Linked DNA regions of Homo sapiens. The protein of the gene in region 2 purifies or fractionates together with the protein of the main gene of each other region. This does not show direct contact. Each region holds a gene or a part of one and is shown on either strand. Other genes may lie near its edges.

What was found. The genes of interacting proteins can lie anywhere in the genome.
Region 1: the proteins of EVA1C (region 2) and SPTLC2 purify together in Homo sapiens (affinity purification with mass spectrometry; 4 studies listed by BioGRID and IntAct, with this or other methods). This does not show direct contact.

The regions. Positions count from the first base shown.
Region 1 is NC_000014.9:77,606,623-77,613,657, forward strand, and holds part of SPTLC2 (serine palmitoyltransferase 2), read right to left. Parts: intron 1-7,035. UniProt on the Homo sapiens protein: Component of the serine palmitoyltransferase multisubunit enzyme (SPT) that catalyzes the initial and rate-limiting step in sphingolipid biosynthesis by condensing L-serine and activated acyl-CoA (most commonly palmitoyl-CoA) to form long-chain bases.
Region 2 is NC_000021.9:32,408,027-32,415,733, reverse strand, and holds the start of EVA1C (protein eva-1 homolog C isoform 1 precursor), read right to left. Parts: upstream 3,029-7,707; 5' UTR 2,881-3,028; coding exon 2,721-2,880; intron 1-2,720. UniProt on the Homo sapiens protein: Binds heparin.

The DNA of each region.
Region 1 (7,035 bases), on a different chromosome or scaffold from region 2:
AATCAACATAATCATTTCATTTTTTTTTCCACTCATTCTACAAATACTTAATTTCTATCTATATGTCAAGAACTGTACTCTAGGCTGGGCACAGGAGCTCACGCCTGTAATCCCAACACTTTGGGAGGCCAAGGCGGGAGGATTGCTTGGACCCAGGAGTTTAAAACCAGCCTGGACAACATAGTGAAACCCTATCTCTACACAACATTTTCAAAAGTTAGCCGGATGTGGTGGTGCATGAATGTAGTCCCAGCTACTGGGGAGGCTGAGATAGGAGGATCTCCTGAGCCCAGAAGGTTGAAGCTGCAGTGAGCCATGATGGCGCCACTGCACTCCAGCCTGGGTGATAGAACAAGACCCATCTCAAAAAAAAAAAAAATTGTACTCTATATTTCATGAAACAAATAAGAGGTAAGAGGTAATCCTTGTCTTCAAGAATTGTGCAGTATTTTGTTTGTTTGTTTTTTTAAGAGAAAATGGATGTAAATATAAAAGGAAGTAAGGAAATCATTTTAAAGAATATCACCTAAAGGAATTTATATTTAATATGTAAGACGAAAAACACATACAAAGTAATAAGCATTTCTCTTACAAATGTTTCTCAAGCTGTCTCTTCCTCCTCATTTGACTGACAAAATCAAGGAAAGTAGATTAAGCAATTTGTCAACAGTCATGGGAAAGCTAAATATCAAAGTTGGAACTAGAGTCCAATTATTTATAGGTTGGTGCAAAAGTAATTGCCATTAAATGGTTTCCGCCATTAAAAGTAATGGCAAAAGTAATTACTTTCAATGTCAAAAACCGCAATTACTTTTCCACCAATCAATACATTTTCCATTTGCCATTCCTTAGTTTATATTGCCTGAGATTTTCTTTTTTTATTTTATTAATTCCATGGCTTTCCAATGAATTGAGATTTTCTAAGAATCAAATTTTCCTTTAATTATTTCAGAGGTACTACAACTTAATCTGATTGTTTTAAAATAATCAGTGGCTTAATATTAGAATTTTACTGCAAATTCATCTTCCATACTTATTTTTGCTATTTAAATAATTAGCTATTTTTGTTATTCATGTTATTAGCTACACTTACATGGAGACAAATGGTTATATGGGTTTCCTCTACTAAGAAAATGGGTTTCTAGGAAATGAGGTTTCGCACCAACTAATTTAGTTGTCCTGGAAATAACCTGCTTGCCTATGTAAAAGTCAAGCTTATACAGGAGGCAATAAAGACACTACCCTTTAGCACAACCTGCAGAGCTCTCCAGCACATGGTGGACTGCAGTACAACCAGGATCACAAGCCCGGTTTCTCAGCCCAGCTTCTTGGCATTTGAAATCAATGTGAGAAAAGAGCAGAGGAAAGAGCTGACACGTTTCCCCTTCCTTGTAGCACCAACCGGCGTCTCACAGCTGAAGCCCTTGGTAAGACAATGGAGAGGGTGCCGCAAAAGTCACCACTGGCCCCACTGCCCTGTAGGGAGAGCTTAGGGAGAGGTGATGAAGCATATCAGAGTGTGCCAGACCCCAGGACCTTCTCTGGCCTCTTCCTACTTCTCACAAGCTCTCCCCTCACGCTAGTAAGAACATTCAGTAAACCGCTATTGTTTTAAACCACTTGCAAACCTGATACACTATAAATTAGGCTACGGGTTTCTTTAACAGCTTATGTGTCACCACAATCCATTTCTTACTTATGTCTGTAACATTATTTTAGGGAGCTAGTTTTTGTCAACCAGCAGAGTATGTATGAAATATGACACAGTAATTATCATCAAAAAAATAGAAATAAAACTGTATTCAACATCTAGCTTTATCAAAACTTAAGATTTAGCTTATATGCTTTAGATCTTTTTTCCATTAAATAAAACATTAAAGTTATTCATTCAATACTTATTGAGTCCCTGCTATGAGCTAGGCATGATCTGAGCACTAGAAATACACTCCTGTGAGAGAGGCAGACAACAGATAAGCAAATAGATATACTGTATCAGATCACACTGCTACAATCAGAATAAAATCGTGGAAAAAGAGCATTTTAAACAGGGTGGAGGTAAGGTGTAAGCAGATGGACTTGGAGTAGGGAAGAGAACTCTGTGAAAAAGCTTTCCAGGCTGAGGTAACTGTAAAGGCTAAAGCCCCAGGGACCCCAGGCGTGGTAGGTCACGCCTGTAATTCCAGCACTTTGGGAGGCTGAGACAGGAGAATCATTTGAACTTGGAGGCGGAGGTTGCAGTGAGCCGAGATCACATCACTGCACTCCAGCCTGGGTGACAGATTGAGGCTCCATCTCAAAATAATAATAATAATAATAATAATAATAATAATAATAATAATAAGGCCCCAGGGAGGGGTGCTTGATGGCAATGTGTTTGGGGAACATCAGAAAGCCCGGATTGGCTAGAAAGCAGTGACCTGGCAGGATATGAAGTCAGAGAGGGATGGGAAAGTTCATGGTGGGCCTTGTAAACCCCATTTTGTATTCTGTTATTAGTGACAGGAGGCCATCAGGACAGTGTCAAGATCTGACATGTTTAAGTAGTTCTCCAATCCTTTTAAGAAGTCTGTCCTGGGGAAATGCTATATTTCCTTTCCTCCTCAGAAGAATTGGGAATTTGGTGTTTATCATTCCCCTGTATTTTTAAATACTTTCACTATATAAACACATGGCCATAAACAATGTAGTATTCTCCTGCATGTATTAGTACTGCATTCCTTCAGTAGTATTGCTGAATAATATCCTTTTATATGGATATACCATATTTTATCTACTCATCAGTTGATAGACATTTGGATTGTTTCTACTTTTTGGCTATTATAAATAACGTGGGGCTAGACACAGTGGTTCACGCCTGTAATTCCAGCACTTTGGAAGTCCGAAGCGGATGGATCACTTAGGTCAGGAGTCTGAGACCAGCCTGACCAACATGGTGAAACCCCATCTCTACTAAAAATATAAAAAATTAGCTGGGCGTGGTGGCATGTGCCTGTAGTCCCAGCTACTCGGAAGGCGGAGGCAGGAGAACTGCTTGAACCAGTGGGGTGGAGGTTGCAGTGAGCCACACTGCACCCCAGCCTGGGCAACGGAGTGAGACTCTGTCTCAAAAAAAAAAAAATTTTGCCACTCATGGTGGCATATGCCTGCAGTCCCAGATACTTGGGAGGCTGAGGTGGGAGGATTGATTGAGCCCAGGAGGTGGAGGCTGCGGTGAGCCATGTCCTGCCAGCCTGGGTAACAGTAACACCCTGAATCAATCAATCAATCAATCAACAATGCTGCTATTATAATTAATATACAAGTTTCTGCAGGAACATATGTTTCATTTTTCTTGGGAGTAGAATTACTGGGCCACATGCTAACTCTATGTTTAACTGTTTCCTAAAGTGGCTGCATCATTTTATAATCCCACCAGCAATGTATCAGGATTCTAATTTCTCTATATCCTCATGAACACTTAATACCTGGTTTATTATTTTAGCAATCCTAGTGGTGTGAAATGGTATCTAACTGAGGTTTTGTTTTGTTTTGTTTTGTTGAGACAGAGTCTCACTGTCGCCCAAGCTGAAGTGCAGTGGCACCATCTTGGCTCACTGCAACTTCCACCTCCTGGGTTCAAGCGATTCTACTACCTCAGACTCCCAGAGTAGCTGGGATTATAGGCACACACCACCACACCCGGCTAATTTTTACATTTTTAGTAGAGACGGGGTTTCACCATGTTGGCCAGGCTGGTCTCAAACTCCTGACCTCAAGTGATCCGCCCATCTCGGCTTCCCAAAGTGCTGGGATTACAGGCGTGAGCCACGGTACCTGGTCATATACCTTATTATTTTTTAATTAAATAGAGATGGGGTCTCGCCACGTTGCCCAGGCTGATCTTGAACTCCTGGGCTCAAGCAATCCTTACACCTTGGCTTCCCTTAGTGCTGGGATTACAGGTATGAGCCACTGTGCCCAGCCCTTAATACCTATTTTTTGGAGTAAGACTGGATCACACCCATAGTATCAGTACAACCGCATATTTCACTGTACTTAGAAATTATCACAAAATAGTCTGCTACAGTGGCTGTAATCCCAGCACTTTGGTAGGCTGAAGCAGGAGGATGCTTGTGGTCAGGAGTCTGAGACCAGCCTGGGTGGCTGGGTGCGGTGGCTCACACCTATAATCTCAGCACTTCAGGAGGCCAAGGCAGGAGGATCGATTGTACCCAACAGTTTGAGATCAGCCTGGGCAACATAGTGAGACTCTGTCTCCCTCTCTCTCTGTCTCCCTCTCTCTTTATATATATATATTTTTATTTATTTTTGTTTGTTTGTTTAAGTAAAAAAGAGACTAGCCTGGGGAACATAGTAAGACCCATCTCTACAAAAAAAAAAAAAAAAAAAGGCCAGGCATGGTGGCTCAAGCCTGTAATTCCAGCACTTTGGGAGACTGAGGCAGGCGGATTACAAGGTCAGGAGAGCGAGACCATCCTGGCTAACATGGGGAAACCCTGTCTCTACTAAAAATACAAAAAAAAAAAAAAAATTAGCCGGGTGTGTTGGTGAGCACCTGTAGTCCCAGCTACTCGGGAGGCTGAGGCAGGAGAATGGTGTGAACCTGGGAAGTAGAGCTTGCAGTGAGCCAAGATCGCGCCACTGCACTCCAGCCTGGGTGACAGAGCAAGACTCTGTCTCAAAAAAAAAAATTAGCCCACTGTAGTGGTGCACACCTGTGGACCCAGCTACTTGGGAGGCTGAGATGGGAGGATCGCTTGAGCCCGAGAAGTTGAGGCCGCAGTAAGCTATGACTGTGCTACTGCAGGCCAGGCTGGAGCGAGACCCTATCTCGCCAAAAAAAAAAAAAAAAAGAAAGAAAAGAAATTAACGGAAAGTAGCAGATGGATTTACAATAGACCACATTAAAAAACAAACCTCCGGCTAGGCGTGGTGGCTCACGCCTGTAATCCCAGCACTTTGGGAGGCGGAGGCAGGTGGATCACCTGAGGTCAGGAGTTCGAGACCAGCCTGGCCAACACTGTGAAACCTTGTCTCTACTACAAATGCAAAAATCAGCCAGGCGTGGTGGCGCATGCCTGTAATCCCAGCTACTCAGGAGGCTGAGGCTGGAGAATCGCTTGAACCCGGGAGGTGGAGGCTGCAGTGAACTGAGATGGCGCCACTGCACTCCAGCCTGGGCGACAGAGTGAGACTCCGTCTCAAAAAAAAAAAAACCTAACGCAGAGATTATCTCAATGTTTTATGATCCCACATTAAACATGTATTATTTCTATAATGAGAAGTAAAAATTATTTTTTTAAAAAAGGAAGAATAGCTGCCTCAAGCTTTGCAATAAAAAGTAGTCTTAAAGACAAACTTAAGATAAATTTTCTAACAGTAAATGGGTCAAGAGCAAAGGACTTACTTTTTTATCGGTCACAAATTGTGAATTATATTACAGAAGCTTCTCAGAAACTACCCAGAAGGGAACTGACTTTGAGTCCACAAACCATTTATTTAATCAAGTATGGCACACCCACTCAGAATGCAAACAGTGCCTCTACCCATCCCTCTGAATTGCCTATTCTACCAATAAACACTGCTTCTTTCTTCCAAAAACTGAATCTAATTAAATCAACCAATTAACTGTCTTGCTCAAAGCGGTGCAAATTTCTATGGCACATGGGCAAACCCTAAAAAGTGGGCAAGTCTGACTTTTCTGAACATCCTAGTTCTAAAATACTATCTTAAGAACATAGCTGCTTACACATTTCCCAAGAATTCCTGTTAAAGAAAATTCCTGAGTATCTCAAATAACTCTGGAATTCTTCAGATGCAGCTATGTAAGAATCAAGATATGCTTCCCCTTAGAGTGAAAACTGAAATGAAAATCTTGTCCTCCAAGTTGTAAATTACATTATTTCTGAAAAGCCTTCAGGTATCTGAGGTATCTTATCAGGATCTGCTAAATCTAAATAGATATATGACTATTCTAACTATTTCTACTGTTCTAGCCTCATAACTATCGTCTCCTTTTCCTTAACTATCACATATAAACCCCCAGTTACTGTTTCTCCCTCAGTGGAAACAAAAGCTAGTAGCTATTTAGTAAACCAGCTTTATTAGTTATTTATTTGCCTCCTCCTAAGAAGCAAGACTAACACTTTGTTCTTTCTACTTTGCTTATTATTTAACATAAGAACACAACTTTTGCCCCAATTCCTTGAGATAGAATTTTTTATTCTGTAAGCCAGAGAGCTCTCATCCTTCTAATATCTCATTAAAACTACACCCAAAGGGAAAAAAGTTAGGGTCAAAACTGTCTCAAAGGTAGATAACTTTTTTTCTTTCACACTTATTAACTAACTCAGGAAAGTAAAAGGAAAACCTAAATCTCAAAACTTCTATAAAGAAATGGAAGCTCTTTTAAAAAGAGCTGTTAACGTGAAGTTTTAAAAACAAACACACAAACAAACTACTATATTTCAGGTGCAACCAAAACATGGCATTTATTTCATCAAATGTTAAATCCACAGGAAGAAATTTGGTAATTAAGATCATGGAATAATAATCCAATTTGCTATAGAGAAAAACTTGCTGCAAATCCCCTGGAGATCTTTAAAAACAGTACAGAATTTTCTATCAAGACTGATTTTAATAAACTCCTACAAAGAGATAAAGGACTGAATTAAATAAACTCCCAAAGGTTCTTTCCAATGCTAATGTAAAAGTTTCCCTCGGGCAAATTGCCACACCTTACCTCAAATAAAGGTTTGTGCTCCTCCCACTCATCTGAATAGCAGAGAGGAAAAATTACTGCTCTATTGTTCAACTGTTACTATTGTGAAAACTGTGTGTCTACTGTCATCACTAAACAGCAATGTGTGATTGTTTCATAACTCCTTAACACAGCATCTAGCTCATCAAATTCTAAACCCAAATCCAAGAGTTGTTCTTTTACTATACACATTCATTCATCTCTTCAAGCACAGAAACATACTCTTGAGAGTGTAAAGTGATCCTAGACGTTTCTGACTTCTCTCCTGTTCATTA
Region 2 (7,707 bases):
AGGCGGTGTTTGGGGAGCCTGTTTACTAGCAAGCTTGGAGGTGATTAGAACAAGTCACGAGCATGGACAGGGAGGAGGAGGGGGCCATGATGCTGCCTCTGGCTTATTAAGAGTGAGATCGATGCTGGAATCCCTGAGGGCAAAAAAAAATCAATGACCCAGGAAAACGACACCAGCTGACAGCCCCAGGAAAAGGCTCAAGGAAGAGCCGCAAAGAAGAGAAAGGCTTAAGGAACTTTCCAAAACTCTGCACTGCTAATCTCCTGGGGGGAGAAAGGGGCCTATATTGTACAGACAATGGCTGGGACCCCTGACATTCTGGCACTTTCTTTCACATGGATACACCATCCTCCCTCCTCCTTCACAGGGCAGAGGGATCCCAAGTTTCCTCTATCCTCTGCTAGTTTTTGATGTTCCCTTTATTTAGAAAAACAGGCAAGTATCTGCATTGTCAAACACTGCTCTCTAGCCCTGGTTATTGTGATCAGGCTCTGCAGGGGAGGATCCACTGTCTCCTTCCAGGCCTCAGTTTTGGTTTCTATGCACTCCTTCAAGTTCATAAAAAGGAACAGGACCGACTGTCCCAGGAACACAGGCGGCAAGCTTTGAGGCCACATGGGGTTCGCGTCAGCTGAAACACTGAACCGAACAATAAGATGGTCATCTTTGGAGCTTAGGAATTTGCAGAGGGAGGGCGGCTAAAATCCAAGTCAAATGAGCCAACTTTGGAAGATGATCTTTCTTTCTCCCTGAGATTTTTCTAATATTTCCCTGACCTCACATGATATAGAATTAAGGTTTAAATTTAAGTGCATCAGTGGTTTGGGAGGACATTATATTTCCTTTCTTCTCCCCAAAAGGCTTCTGACATGTTCTGCCTAATCTTCAGATCTCTGGAGAGCATCACTGATGAGAGGAAAAATGGGGGCTCGTTGTGGGTGGCAATATCACCACCTACTGCTGGCTCAGGGAGTTTGAAACCCTGGAATTTAGGTTCGTATGGAAAGCAGAAGAAAATGCCTTTTATCATTTATACTATTTAGAATAACATGTATCAAATCATTCATTTTACTAAGGAGTTGATAGCTCAACTCCACTGTATGTAACAGTTGCTAGATACAGACAATTCCAAACTTGGGTGGTAATCTATAGACTGTTACAAGTATTGCAACTGCTTCCCTAAAGCAACAGAACTCTAAGTGTCTATAATCTGTGAAAACAATCTAATGGTTACACTGCAATTTGCCTAAAGCAATATTTGTTCAGTTGCAATGATGTCACAAACACAAAAAGGCTTGTCAGTTTTCAATTATTTCCTTAGAATTCAGAGCTAGATGGTGGCTGAACTCAGAACTGCTTTCCATAGCTCAAATCAGCTAATACAGAGCTTTTCTAGCAGCCAAGAAAGTTCTAGTAGTACAAAAAAAAAAGTTAATAGCCCTTGAAAAGTCTGATGCATTTCCCCACAACTCTTACCACAGAGTTCTGATCCTGGGATGCTTGATTTTAAGGGCCGTGGGTGGCTTGCCAAATAGGCCTTATCTTGGCTTCCTTTGCTAGGTAGGAATACTGCCTTGATATTACATATTCAAAGCAAAGAACCTCTGACCTAAGGGCTCTCCACTAACAATGACATTCTCTGTAAGTAAACTAGAACCCCATCTCAACTTCTGGTTTGCCCTTGTTCTTTGCTATGTACTAGCCTACTGCACAAACAGGACTGAGGAGGACTCCCTTTACCACCATTATGTTGCAAAAGACTCTGCACTGAGGACCCGATAGGGACCGACTGTGCAAAGCCTGAACTTGGCAGAAGATCCCTGGAGAAGGAGGAGTATGGGGCTCAGAGCTGCTCCCTAAGCTGGGCTGGGGAAGGCTGAAGGCCTCCAGCCTTGCCAGAGGGAGATCCAGGTGTGCTTCAGCGGCAAGGACATGTGTTACCTTAAGCAACTGCAGCGCTAACTTAAGCATGTGCTCCTATGGCTATCGTCAACCTAGAAATCCCTTTCACTTTGGGGCGTCACACCTGTAAGCTCAGAACTATCTGAGATCCGCTGCGAGAGCCTGGATCACGATTCCCAAAAAGAAAAGCCTCCTAGTTTATTCGAGAGTAGGAAGTCATTATTTTCTGTGAAGGAAACTGGAATTGGAGAGGGAGGACCCTGGTACACTTTGGCAGAGAGGCTCCTCTCTCTTATCTAAGTATCTCCTCATCCCTCACTGCCTTTCCACCAGACCTCCAGTCCCCGCGGGCTTCCCTTTCTACCTGCCAATGTGGACTCGAGGTCAAGTGTCCCCTGGGCTAGTCTCCTTACATGGGCAAACGGGCTACGCGGGTGACAAACGCGGCGCAACGCCTCCGACCACAACACGTGTATTTTACAGCGCTGGGCGCGGCACAGGGCTCAGTTTAAGGAGCCTCCATAGAACGAGCGTGGCTCAGGACCAGGTCCCTAATGCTAGGAAATTGACGAGGTCAACAGCAGGGCGAGAAACTCTGAATACATTACACACCCTTCCTTCTTGGGAGTGGCAGTCCCCCGTCGCCACTTCACTCGCAGCCATCTATATGCCAAGGGCTCACACCAGACAAGTGTCTGTGAGCACGCCTCAACTTTAATCCTACCCCGCCGTGTCCACTGGTGCGGCTGCCCCCAGTCGAGGGTTCACCTGGGCGCTCCGCGGTGCCGGGGGCACACAGCCAGGGAGGGCGCTCTTACCAGAGAAGTCGGTGAGCGCTGAGATCTCTTTGGAGCAGACCAGGACAGTGCAGTAGAAGAGGCGCAGGAGCTGCCCCGGCGGCTCTACCTGCCGGCGGAGGCCGGGATGCTGCACGGGCTGGGGCGTCGGCGGTTGGCGTGCGCGTCCCGGCAGAAGCATCGTGCGCTGCGCGGCGGGGCGGAGGCGCAGGCCCGGGACGCGCTGGGGGTCGCAGGGCTAAGGACGGCGTCACATGGCGGGGAGAATCGATGGCCAGCGGCTCCGCGGCCCCCCGCCGCCTCCCTGCCCAGGCTGCCAGAGCCTCCTCCCCTGCGCGGGCCAGCCCAGGCGCCCCAGCAAAGGGGAGGGGGCGGAGAACTGGGGCGGGGCGAGGATCCCCGAAAAGGATCCGCGTAGTTTCCCCGAGAGGAAATCTCCGTTGCCGCCGTGCCGGAGGAAGCGAGGGGGGCCGTAGGGAAAGCGCAGCCTTCGCGCGCCCCGCGGCTGCCCAGGCCGATCCCTGGCGCGCTGCCCACCGCGGAGGGCGCCCCCAGTAGCGCGCCCCGGGCCGCGCACCTTGAGCGCCTTCCACACCCGGGAAACAGCCGGGCACCCGTGGCCCTGCCCGCGCTGGCCGGGTGCCAGCCTCGCCCTGGCGGCAGAAGGAGCGCGGCCGGTGCCCGTGACGCACTTTGGAGCCAGCGCCGCGCGTGCAGCTGGGGCGCCCCCGGGGCGGGGCCGATCGGGGGCCGCAGGAAGGTGGGGTCCTGGAGGCGTGGGATCGCACCGCTGCCATCCCCGCCACCCGCCGCGCGCCACGTGCAGTCACCCGGCACATACAGTTATCGCCATTCCACAGAAGAGGAGACTGAGCCCCGGCGCCGTGCCCAAGCTCTCGCAGCCAGGACGGCGACGAGCTGGAGGTCTCAAAACCGGTCAGATGGCTCCGGAGCCGGGATCTTTAGCTCCAGCTCGGCTTCCTTTGGGTGCTGGTTGTCCGCAGCGCTGGGGGATCTGACACTGCACCGGCGCAAACAGCCGCCGAGCGCTAATAATTGGGCTTTGTTTTAAAGTGGGCCACAGCATCTTTCTGAACCTCTAGACTGTGCGCGGGGTGACCCACGTTCGGACGCCCAGCCAGTGGCCTAGGAGTGGCCTGCGTAGCCCCAACTCAAGGGTATCGAGGACAAGTGCGCGAGGGGCTCCGTGGCTGCTTGCCGGGTGCGGGTACCTGGCGCCCAGCGACCCAAACCCTATGGATCGCGCGGGGCCGGCGGAAGGGAGGAGGGCGGGCGCTAGGCACACAGTGTTCCCGAACCCGGCGGGAGGGCCTGCCAAGTTCGCGGCGGGCGTGACGCGGAAACGTAGATAATGAGGCCCAGGGCGGGGCCGGACGCACTGCCCCGCGGGCTCCAGAGCTGCGAACGCCCCAGAGTGTGCAGGGAGGCCTGCAGAAAGAAAATGCGGCTGAGGGTCCCCGTGGGACCCACTCAGAGGTGGGCCGTAAAGATCCCGGAAGGGTGGATGGCATTAGATACCACCTAGTACTCCAGCAAGGGCTGGGTCACCGAATTGGGATCTCGGCCTCTTCTTCCAGTCTGGGGAAAAGTGTGTTAAATGCTAAACATCAGTGTTTATCGAGTGAGGCCCAGCCTGTCTGGCATAATGATTTTTAAAATCTACATTCAAATATTAAATAAAAACTCAACCTCCCCAATAACATTTGAACATAAATATTAGTGTGCGCTCTCTAGGTTAGGGAAACTGAAGCTGGGAGTGTGGGTAAGGATGCCCAGCACTTAGGAGCCACAGGGTAAGTAATGTTTGTCCAAAACTCGGGTCCCTCCTGTACTTTCCATTCTGTCTGTTCATTCATCCAGTTTAGATATGAATTGGTACCAACGTGTGCCAGGTTCTGCGCTAGTGACTGACAGTGTTGGCACAGGGAGGCAGCCATGCTCCCGAGTCCTGGGAGTGGGCAGCACTGCCCTGTGGGTCTGCACTGGCTTCCAAATGTCTAAGTGGGCACTGTTACTCACTGTGACAGCATCCCCAGGCTTTCTTACCTGGTAAAGCAGAAACTCAAACATACTTACACACCAATATTCATTGCAGCATTATTTATGATGGCCAAAAGATGGAAGCAACTCCAGTGGATGAATGCATACAGTTACTATTACAGCAGGGAAGACAGACATTGGAAAATAATGCCCCGTGAACGGACAGTCACGAAAGACAGGAACCATGGGAGCAGAAGCGAGGAATGAAGGAGCTGAGCCCGAGGGAGGAAGGGAGATATTCAGGAGCATTTTAAGGCAAGATGGATGAGAAAGCTAGAGGATGAATTGGCCAAGCAAAAACTAGCAAAACCCGGGTGTTGCGGGAGGATGAACATTTTAGAAAAAGGGACCAGCATGTTGAAATCCAAAAGGAGCATGGCTGTCTTGAAGGATGGGGAAAAGTCTAGACAGCTGGAGCAGAGCAAAGGGAAGAGCCAGGGGACTTGGAGGTAGGCAGGCCAGAGCTCAGGGCCCTGGAGACTTTGGTGAGAATTTCCGTCTTTTATCTTAAGCCAGCAAAGAACTGTAAGTACAAAAGTGATGTGATTGGATGTGTGTTGGTAAAAAGTCCTTCTCGGCTGCTGAGTGCAAATGGACTGGAGGAGTCAAAAGCAGGCCCTGGAAGTATGTGTGCCAAATAACTAAAAGCAGAGACAGACTCAAACAGATACTTATGCACCAATATTCCTTGCAGCATTATTTAGAAGAGCTGACAGATGGAAGAACCTCAGTGGATGAATGGATAAACAATATATGGCATGTGGCCGGCTGCAGTGGCTGGTGCCTGTAATCCCAGCACTTTGGGAGGCCGAGGTGGGTGGATCACCTGAGGTCAGGAGTTCAAGACCAGCCTGACCCACACGGTGAAACCCCATCTCTACTAAAAATACAATATTAGCCAGGTATGGCGGCACACGCTTGTAGTCCCACCTACTCGGGAGGCTGAGGCAGGAGTATTGCTTGAACCCGGGAGGCAGAGGCTGCAGTGAGCCAAGGTTGCACCACTGCACTCCAGCCTGGGCAAGACAGAGCGAGACTCCGTCTCAAAAAAGAAAAGTGGGTCTGGGGAGATGGCCGTGGTGAGGGAGAGAGTGCAGTCAGGGGTTTATGGCTGTGCTTGGGCTGATGTGCTCGCTGTACACCCAGAAAGAAGAGGAGAAGCGGCCACAATGGAAGGATGTTTAGAAGGCAGATGGACAGCACAATGCGACCGGGCAGTCGTGGGCTATGAGAGGGTCTGAAGGACGTCTCCCTGGCTTCCCTCTGTTTTGTCCCTTAGCCCCTCACTGTTAAATCAGAAGATTTTGGTCCTAATCTGATCTCTTTAAGAATTTTGGAATCTTGCGAGAAAACTGAATTGCTCAGTTATCTTTCTCTCTGGACCCCACACTTTTCTAAGAGCTTTGTAGGTCAAATACCTTAACTCTGAGGCACTATAACAACTCATAGGACGGAAAAGTGGGAAAAGGAATATATGTTTCAAAGAGGGATGAACAGTGTAAAATCAATCTGGGGTCTGGAGAGAAATAATCTTTTCCACCGAGGCAGTTTTCCTTAAATGCTTTCTACTATGATGGAATTTGAATAATAAAAACAGTCATAGCCACTTGGTATTTCAACACAGTTATGGGAGCTGGAATTAAAGTGAATGATGACTGGTGTGCCAAATAATAAAGTGTTTCCAAAATATTAATACTCACAACAACCCTTTGAGATAGGTACTAACTAGGCTAACTACGTCATTTACTTGCCCAGTGCAAAACGAAAATGTGGGGCCCCTCGTTCAAGGATTATTAAGAATTCCAGGATGATAATAGCAGAGCATTAAACCAAGCATAGTTTAATGCTTTGAACACAGGGCCCTGAGTGATTGCTCAGGTCATATGAAGCTGGCCCAGGTACAACAGGAATCTTCATTTCTCAGATGGGGAGACTGAGGGCACAGAGTCATACTGACCGTCCGAACCAAGACTTGAAGCCCTCTTATACTGCAAAGGCACAGCAATTAGGTGGAGGTAAAATAAAGGGTTCTTTTCTAAGTGATGGCACCATTGGGCAATCTTGTTCCTTCTTGTACTAGTTTGAAAAGTGCCTCTGTAGTCACAGCATTCAGTCCATGTGTGCAAGAGGCAACCTTTACAGGACATTGTAAATTACACGTCTTACTTTCTGTCTCTTTGTTTTCTTTTAAAGCAATTCCTGCACCTTCTTTTCAGCTCCATGTTACATCTCTATTTTCCTTCTTCCTTGAGATCCTAGCTACTTGTCTCTCACCCTCTGCCATATCCAAGCCTATTTATTTTTTCTTTAGGTGGAGTCTTGCTCTGTTGCCCAAGCTGGAGTGCAGTGGCACGATCTTGGCTCACTGATATCTCCGCCTCCTGGGTTCAAGTGATTCTCCTGACTTAGCCTCCCAAGTAGCTGGGATGACAGGTGTGCACCACCACACCCAGCAAATTTTTTTTCTTCTTCTTCTTTTTCTTTTGTATTTTTAGTAGCGACAGGGTTTCACCTTGTTGGCTGGGCCGGTCTTGAACTCCTGACCTCAGGTGATCCACCCACCTCGGCCTCCCATAGTGCCGTGATTACAGGCTTGAGCCACCAGGCCCAGCCACCAAGCCTATTATGGGAGATGTTTATGTGCTTCACACTCAGACTGCAACCCTGAGCCATGTCCTCTCACCTGGGCCATTGAGGTAAGGTTTTTGGCTTCCAACAAATGGGCTGTAGCCCTTCTGAGAAGACATAAGCTGCCATTTGGAAACCTCAAAGAAACCAACCTTTCAGCTCAGGAGAGAGAGGCCCAATGTCGTCTGGAGCTTAAAAGGCTTTTTTTTAGAAAGCAACAAATGGTAGTTTGTTTCTAGAGCTGGCACCACAGAGCCGCATCAATAGCAAGGAGCCTGCTTGGTCAGAACTGCAAAAGCCACAGTGCACTAGAAAAGTT